2 linked regions of the Homo sapiens genome follow. The protein of the gene in region 1 interacts with the protein of each later gene in a pairwise test. Each region holds a gene or a part of one and is shown on either strand. Other genes may lie near its edges.

The links.
Region 2: the proteins of FKBP15 (region 1) and MCF2L interact in a two-hybrid assay, tested with the Homo sapiens proteins (one large-scale study listed by IntAct).

The regions. Positions count from the first base shown.
Region 1 is NC_000009.12:113,165,772-113,169,579, forward strand, and holds part of FKBP15 (FK506-binding protein 15), read right to left. Parts: coding exon 3,453-3,808; intron 2,786-3,452; coding exon 2,689-2,785; intron 385-2,688; coding exon 307-384; 3' UTR 1-306. UniProt on the Homo sapiens protein: May be involved in the cytoskeletal organization of neuronal growth cones. Seems to be inactive as a PPIase. Involved in the transport of early endosomes at the level of transition between microfilament-based and microtubule-based movement.
Region 2 is NC_000013.11:112,967,893-112,972,300, reverse strand, and holds the start of MCF2L (guanine nucleotide exchange factor DBS), read right to left. Parts: upstream 3,088-4,408; 5' UTR 2,922-3,087; coding exon 2,843-2,921; exon of another isoform or gene 2,785-2,842; coding exon of another isoform or gene 2,760-2,784; intron 2,742-2,759; exon of another isoform or gene 2,101-2,741; intron 1-2,100. UniProt on the Homo sapiens protein: Guanine nucleotide exchange factor that catalyzes guanine nucleotide exchange on RHOA and CDC42, and thereby contributes to the regulation of RHOA and CDC42 signaling pathways. Seems to lack activity with RAC1.

The sequences.
Region 1 (3,808 bases):
AGATTAAAAAGTCTGGCAGAGGACAGGACTCTTACAGGTGACTGGCTTGGAGGGGAACCTACCAGTCCTTCTTCCAACTTGCTGCTGAAATCCCAGTGTTCTTGAAGACAGGGTTATGATCCTCTTCACCAGGTCTGGCGGGGGTGGGGCTCAGAAGGTGGCCAACCCACCCTCTGAGCCCAAATATTGTTCCCAGAATGCTCACCTTGACCTCACCCTGTGGTTCGCCTAGACCCAGGGTTGGCTGTGCAAAATCATGCTTAGGGAAGGGTTGCAGAGAAACCTTTGCACCAGTTTCCTGGGTCTTCATCCCAGCCAGTCAATGTCATCGTCATCATCATCATCTCCAAAAAGGGGCGTTGGGGGCGGGCGTCCCTTCATGCTCTGATAAAACAGGAAAGAGCAGTCAGTCCTCACTTGTGCCTGCACCACTGGACTTTCCACCTGTGAGTGGAAGCAATCCAACTTCTGTTCCCAGCTCTGGGTCAGAAAGGAGGTTGTACTGACAGGGCCAACTCTGAGGCCAGCAAACCTAGGCTTCCAGATAAAGCTGAGACCAGCAGGCAGAGAAGGGAGGCAGTCTTTCAACAGAGACAAAAGATGAACTTTGTTTGGCTAATCTCATCATTTATTTATGAAGCACATGTACTGATTTGACAGATTTTCCTCTCATGCAGTAACTTACACATTTTGTGTGGAGAAAGAAGGGTCAAAGAGGAAACACTGGAGCAGTAGGAAGAAACAGAAGCAAAGCAGCCCTGAGAGAGCGAGAGGAAGTGGGAAGAAGGGAGGTTGGGAAGAAGACAATCACATATGGAAAAATACTGTCGTCGTGGCCTAAGGTGGCCTGACTGGCTCTGGGTGTGATCCCATCATTTGAAAGAGTTGAATTTGGAGGCTTGGCCAACTGGAGAATCCTAAGAGGTGAAGAACACGGGGCCACAGCCTCCCACACCTCTAGCCTGACTGGCACCACCCTCGCTCCTTCCAGCTAAGGTAGTGGGGGTGAAAGGGACTGATGGGCCATGAGAGACCCTCTCTTTTCACAGCTTGAGCTCCTGGCCTTTCTCCTCTGGCTTGGCAAGGGAACAGGACCTACCCGGCTAGCAGGGATTGATGCTACAGACAGGCACGAACTGAATAGTCTCTACTAAGGCATTCTCTGCTCTGGTGAGCAACTGCCAACCAGAATCCATCTTCACAGGGCCAGGCAAAAGGGAAGGCAGCGTGATGTGTATACAAGTCTCTGGGCTAATCCCACGTCACTACCAATTAGCCAGACCTCGTACTTCTCTCTGGACATCAATGACGTGATCTCTAACTCTGACAGTATAGGATTTTCAAGTGTGGCTCACAGCTTCTGTTTTGTCCTGACTAAAGTTCTGGCTCTACATTTACTAGCTATATAAGCTTAGTTAAATTATTTAATCTTCCTGAGCCTCAGCCCTCTGATATATAAAATGGGATAAAAGTACCTACCTCATTGGATTAGTAGATTAAATGACAACATCTGTGAAGTCGTTTTCAGAGTACCCAAGAACTACATGTTAACTGGACAGTATTGGTACTAATACCAATAATATGCTCACTAATTAAAAGCTTCCAACTATATTTAGGGCAGTCACTTAGAATATACTCAATTTGGTTTTTCCCCCTTTTTTCCTTTTTTTAAGGGCAGAATTGCTATTCTGGATTCTCAAATGAAAATTTAACTCTTGAGAAGAAAGACTCATGGAAGGAACTGGTACATTCCCCAAAGGAACACAGGCAAGAGGGAAGGGCTCCGATACATGCAAGCTGGAGCATAGATCCATCACAGCTCTCTGCTCAAGGTTTTGGCAAAAGGCAAAATCCACTCTGGCTGATACATGAGGGGACAAAATTTGCCCCATTCACCCTCATATTTCTGTCCTTTAGATGGACTGAGCCTGAAGCCCACCTGTGTTCTCCATATGCATTTCAGAGCAGTCAAAATGGCCTAGGGACAGCCAGAACGGTTGTAACCTAGCACAGCGGGGAGCAGCAGAGGCGAGAACCGGGGTTCTAATTCAGTCCCTATCAGTGCCCTCCTCTCCTGGCCTTCACTCTTGTTCTGTGAAGCTATGCTATTAATACTGAACCCATTTTGTGCCCAGGGATATTGTGATGACAAAACAAGGCAGCAGGAAAGCAGGCTGAGTAAGTGGAAAATGCTCAGGAACAGGAGGTCTTTACAGGAGCCTGGGGATTAGTCCTAGCTTTGCCATTAACTCACTCTGTGGCTTTGGGTAAATCATCATTTTGAGCCTCAGGTTTTTTATCTATGAATAAGGATGCCAGGCAAGATGATCTTCAAAGTCCTTTCCAATTCTAAAATATAAATAATATCCTAGCAGATTTGGGGAAAACTAAGGCTTCAGCATTCCAATGTGGGGCTAAGCAGCTCAGCTTTCTTCCTCTGAGGGGACTAATTCCTGCATGGACAGAGACTATGATTCTTTCTCAAAAGTAAAGTGGTATGTGACCGTCCCCTACTCTGCTTACAGAGCTGCGCCCTCCCAGCCCAGCCCCAAGCCTGCTCCCACAGGGCCCTGCACACAGAGTCCAGGGAGTGGGCCACCAACAGGCTCCATTTCTCTTCTCAGAGCCAGTAGGGAAGAGCCCCCAGGTGGGTGTGTGAGGACTTGACAGTGCCTGGGATTTCCTTACCACCTCGTCTTCATCCTCCTCCTCAGGCTGTGCTTTGGGCCTCAGAGCTTTCAGAGTTGCCCCTTTAAACAGTTCATCCTCTTCATCCCCAGAGAGACTGAAGGAAAATCAAGTCATAGAAAATGTTATTGTTCCTGCTCCAGGTCACAGTACCCACCACCTACAAGGGTCACCGGCCCTTGGGTAAGAATTCAACAGCGTTGGTGACTGCTCAGGAATTCCTCCCACCTCCGCTGCCACCATCTCTTCCCACACCCTACAGTGGCCTCCTAGTGCGGTTGGCCCCCTCCAGAACCTACAGCCAGAGTCATCTTTTCAATGTGACCTTCTCAGAATCCTTCCCTAGCCACCCTATCTAAAGTGGAACAACTCCTTTAGAATAGCACCCTGTTTCTTTTTTAAAAGGACTTATCATACTTTATGATATGTAAGTATGTATTTGTTTTCTCCACTTGACTGTCACTCCTTAAACTCAAGAACCAAACCTGCCTTGCCTACCACACTATCACAGGGCCCACCACACTACCACAGTGCCCGCCACACTACCGCAGGGCCCGCCACACTACCACAGGGCCCGCCACACTACTGTAGGGCCCGCCACAGAGCCTTGTACATGGTAGGTGTTGTTGAATTAATACATCAACTAATGAATGAAGACATGAGTAAATTAGTCTCTGAGGGATGAGTTGCCAGCCCTGGAAAAAACAGAGACACTCACCACAGATAACTACCCTGTCCCTGAAGCAGTGCTCAGAGGAACATACCTGGAACGCTGGGAATGATGGCTGGGTCTGAGGGCTGCTCCTGCAACTGTGGAACCTGCCTCTGTGCTTGACAGCTCCTTGTGGGGACCGGTGGAGCTAGTGACATCATCTTTCTTGAGCTGTGGAGGCTGAGGCTCTCCTGGGCTTTCAGGCCCTAAGGCCAGTGGGTCCCCCTCCTCGGGGTCTGAAGTCAGGGACAGTCTTGTGGAGCTTTCTTGTAGTGGGCCATCTGGTGCTACTTCCCTGACACAGACCTTTCCTGATGGGTTGTCGGGCTTAGCTGCCATTGGGCTGGCAGCAAGTGACTCCTCACACTCAGAGTCCATGGATACAGGGCCTAGGGGCTCAGGTGGAAT
Region 2 (4,408 bases), on another chromosome or scaffold:
ACATCCATTCATCCACCCCTACATTCATCCACCCACCCATCCATCCACCCACCCACCCATCTACCCATTCATCCATCCATCCACTCATTTATCCATGCATTATCCATCTATCATCATCTGTCTATGACAAGAGTTAGTATTAGGTCAACTAATGGAAAAGGTGGGGCTAGATTTAAAGATTCTTCTACCACAGTAGTTCCCCAAGTTTGATTCCTGAAGAACTTCATCAAGAACTTAAGAAATGTCAATTATCAGACCCTACCCCAGACTTCCTGAATCAGAAACTCTGAGGGTGGGCCCAGCAGCCTGTGCTTTAACAAGCCCCCAAGGTGACGCATGTACATGCTGTAGTTGGAGGACCACTGTTCTGTTTCATCGAATGCTTAAATCAACTAGATCCATAGCATTGCTCCCTCGAATGTCTTCTACCTTTTCACCAATGACTAAAATTCCAAAGAGAAAACCAAAACAGACGAAAATGAGCCCTATCACATAGAAGGGGGGCCAGGGGGAAGTTGCCACTGGAAAGTGCCCCTGGCCTTGTTACTGAAGATCAGGTTCAGAAAAGTATATAAAATGTCAATTCTCAAGGTCAAAGGCTACAGATTCACAGACCATATGGACAGCACACATTATCCTCCTTTACATGCAGATTAGCCTAGCTAATGAAGGTTCTAGGTGACAGAAGAAATGCATAAATCTGAAATTAAAACACAGCAGCATGTCCTGGACAGCAGCAAAGATAAAATGCCTGTGGGTTGGGGGTGAATCTACAGAGGGTGAAGCTCTGCACAGCTGAATGAGGCAGCTGCTCTAAGGCCAGCCGCTGTACGCAATCCCTCAGCTGTGACCTAGCCCCGCCACTGCCCTGAGGACCTACACCAGCCGCCACATCAGTGTCCTGTTGCCATCAGCTTTTACCTGGCACGGATCCTAGCATGACCCCAGAAGGAGAAGCAGCTCCATGACCTCCCGCTGAAGAGTGTTTGGCTGCAGGTGGGGAACTCTCCTGAGGAAGTGCTTGGAATTTAAACCCGAGGTGGGGATCAGGTTTACCTTGACCTTCACCCCTACCAGAGAATGTGCACCACATACCCGTACACTCTGTGGTAGCATCATGTCAATACTGCATCATAAACCCCCTCATGATGGTTTTACAGCCTTCAACCTAATAACTTGCCTCCGCTGAGCAGTACCTCACACAGCGTGAGCAGAAAATGGGTTTGTGCTGAAGGAAGAGGCCAGTGTTAATGGGTGGTAAGTGGAGTATGATGCAGGGTCACCTCCCCTAACTAAACGCTACAGGGTGCTCATAACCGAGGATATCTGGTAAGCTGGACTTGAAAGTCCTGGTGAAGCATGCAATTATCGGTAATGCAGATGTGTGGGAGGACGCACATCTCACTGCCTGTTCCAGATGAGACGATGGCCCACACCGAGCGCCCGGCTCGCACGACATTCAGTGAGCAGACAGTGTCACTGCTGCTCTTCTGAGATAGCCTTTTTCCAATTAAAAATGCGCACATGTCTCTTGGAGCTCATGAAGAAACCCCAATCCCTAAAAACCTGGGGAATGACATCAGCCTCTGGAGCGGTTCCCACTCTGTGACTCTGACACCGAACGGCACGCAGAGGCATGCAGAGCAAGGGGGGCTTTCTCCTCCACCCCCACAGCCGATCGGAAGCCTCCCTGTGAACCTGGCATCCACGCAGCCCTTCACCATACTCAAACCCTGCAAACCCTGCACGGAAAAGCTCCACTCAAGCTTCAGAAAAAGAGCTGATTCTCTAAGAATCAGGGAGCAGACGGCATGAAAATGGTTTTGTTTTCTTTCGACCCACATACAATAAACCCAGCAGCTTTGATCATAAAAGCCCCCATTAAAAACATCTTGATTAGACCATCCCATACGATGGTGCTTATGCTGATTTAATCACTGGTTCACTCTCAGAATCCATCGGGGTGGGCAGAGAAAGAGAACCACACCCAAACCAAGCAACTGACATTTTAATCTCCCAGGCAAGTACTAGTTAGACAACTAGTAATGGCATATATGACATAACATATGGCAACATCAGGCAAAACACTTGGCAACTTACTTTTAATGATATATCATTATTTCCTCTTCATTTCAAGGAAAACGAGTTAAGGATGCCTCTCCCTTCTGCATAACACAGCCTGAGAACTCAGATGCGACCGCCTGAAAGCCACGGCCAGATGCAAGCTGTCAGCCCAGTCTCTGCTTACACCTAAAAGAATCGATCTGAACTACTCTTCAAAGCTTATTTGAAGTAATATTTCGATTAATACTGAAAATGAACGTCCAGTCCACTCTTTACCCATACCGTCTCAAACATCTGTCTTAGGTTTAAATTGCATTTAATGAAGAAAAGAACCACCTGATTAGTCCAGGTTTTTTCATCCTCAAAACGAGCTTCCAGGTAGCTTCACCATCCCTACCCCTGGCTCTGAAACCCCAAGCTCTGAAAGCCCTTGGCTCAGATCATTCTCCATTCGCAATGCATTCTCCATTGCGAGGGCTGCGGACAGGCAGGTTGATGGGCAGACTTCAGACACACAAATGGCTCCGCATGCAGACCCAGCAACCCTGAGAGAGCCAGTGTCACCAACGTGCAGTCATTTTGACTATCCCGGGCAGCATACGATCGCCGACAGCCTCTGAAAACACACCAGCTGCCAACCAGTGCCCCCCATGTCACAGCTACCACGGCTAGAAAGGAACACGAGGGCGGCTTACAAAAATCAGACGCATTTCCCCACATTTCAGCCCATGATGTCAAGCTTAAGCACAGATCACTGACGGCCAGCAGCTCCTCCTACCCGTGTGCTTGGAAACCGCATTTAATCTCTGCACCATTTCTTCCAAGGCCATCTCTTCAGTCCTCAGCCAAAACCTCATCCTCCGACACAACAAAAATGATCCTGGCAGATCCGCTTCCTCCGCACGGGGGGCGCCTGCGGGTGGGGCCGTGCGAGTGCGGAGGGGGCGCGGCGGAGGCGGGGAGGGGGCCACGGCAGCGCTTTCAGCCTCCAGCCGCCGCCTCCCTGCCCAGGATTGGTTCCGCGCCACCGGGAGGGGGGCGCGCGCTGCGCCGCGGGGGGCGGGGGGCGGCTCGGCGGAAGCGGAAGCGGCGCGCGCCCGCCCCGGTGTGTCACCACCGCGGGTCACCTGGGAGTCCTGTGAGTGCACCGCCGGGGTCACCTGGGAGCCCCGCGTGTCACCGCCGCGGTCGTCGGGGAGCCCCGGGGCTCACCAACGAGGTCACCTGGGAGCCCCGCGGGTCACCGCCGCGGTCACCTGGAAGTGTCACCTGTGTCACTAGGTCACCTAGTGTATCACACAGGTCACCTAGAAATTCGTGTCACCGCCAAGGTCACCTAGAAATTCGTGTCACCGCCGAGGTCCCCTGGGAGCCCCGCGGGTGCCGCACAAGTGCCCCCGCCCTTCCCCCCGGTTCCGGGTCTCCACGCCCTCCTGGTTTGCGGGCAGCCGCGAAGCCGCGAGTGGACCGAGCGAGTGCAGCTGCCTCCGCGGGGCCGCGCCTGGCCGCCGCCTCCCTTTACCTCCGGCCGCCCCGTGGCAGGTGTAGAAGCTGCAGAGGCCGCAGCAGCCCAGCGCGCCCCTTCCGTGTGGCCGCATGCCACCCGCGCCGCGCCCAGGTAAGCAGGTCCGTGGGTCGCTGGGTCCATGCGTGGGTCCGTGGCTGGCCGGGGATGGACCAGCCCCTCCCCGCAGGGGCATCGCCTGCCCAAGGACGCAGGACCCAGTGAGGGAAGCGCGCGCTGCAGGCACGGGGCTCTCCACCCTCGCCATGGTTGGCACCAAGCCACACTGTGCACTCGACACACGCAGCGTCCTGGCTGCCACCTGCAGATTCCAGCTCGTGTCTATGCAGGGCCATGGCCGCCATCACAGGGCCATATGCAAGAAACTCTCTGAGCTCTCCTCGCCCAAAACCGCAGCTATCCTTTTGTGGTTTGGTATTATAGGTAACATGCCCTTCCTTAAAGAAACAGTATTTCAGGCCTGTAGTCCCAGCTACTCCGGAGGCCGAGGCAGAAGCTGAGGCAGAAGCAGGAGGATCATTTGAGCCCAGAAGTTTGAGCCTGGGCAATGTAGCAAGACCCCCCCCCCCACCTCACTCCCCAATCAGTTAAAAGAGAGAGAGAGAGAGAGAGAATTCCAGCAGGAAGAAGTACACATTTCCACGAATGGTTTGGGAATTCAAGCATCATATGGCTGAGGTTTGAACTACAGCTCATGCCAATAACATGTGCACATGCGCCAGCATTCCAGCGTCCAACAGAGCATGCGTGCACCATTCCAGCATCCGGCAACAATGCACCAGCATTCCAGCGTCCAACAGAGCATCCGTGTACCATTCC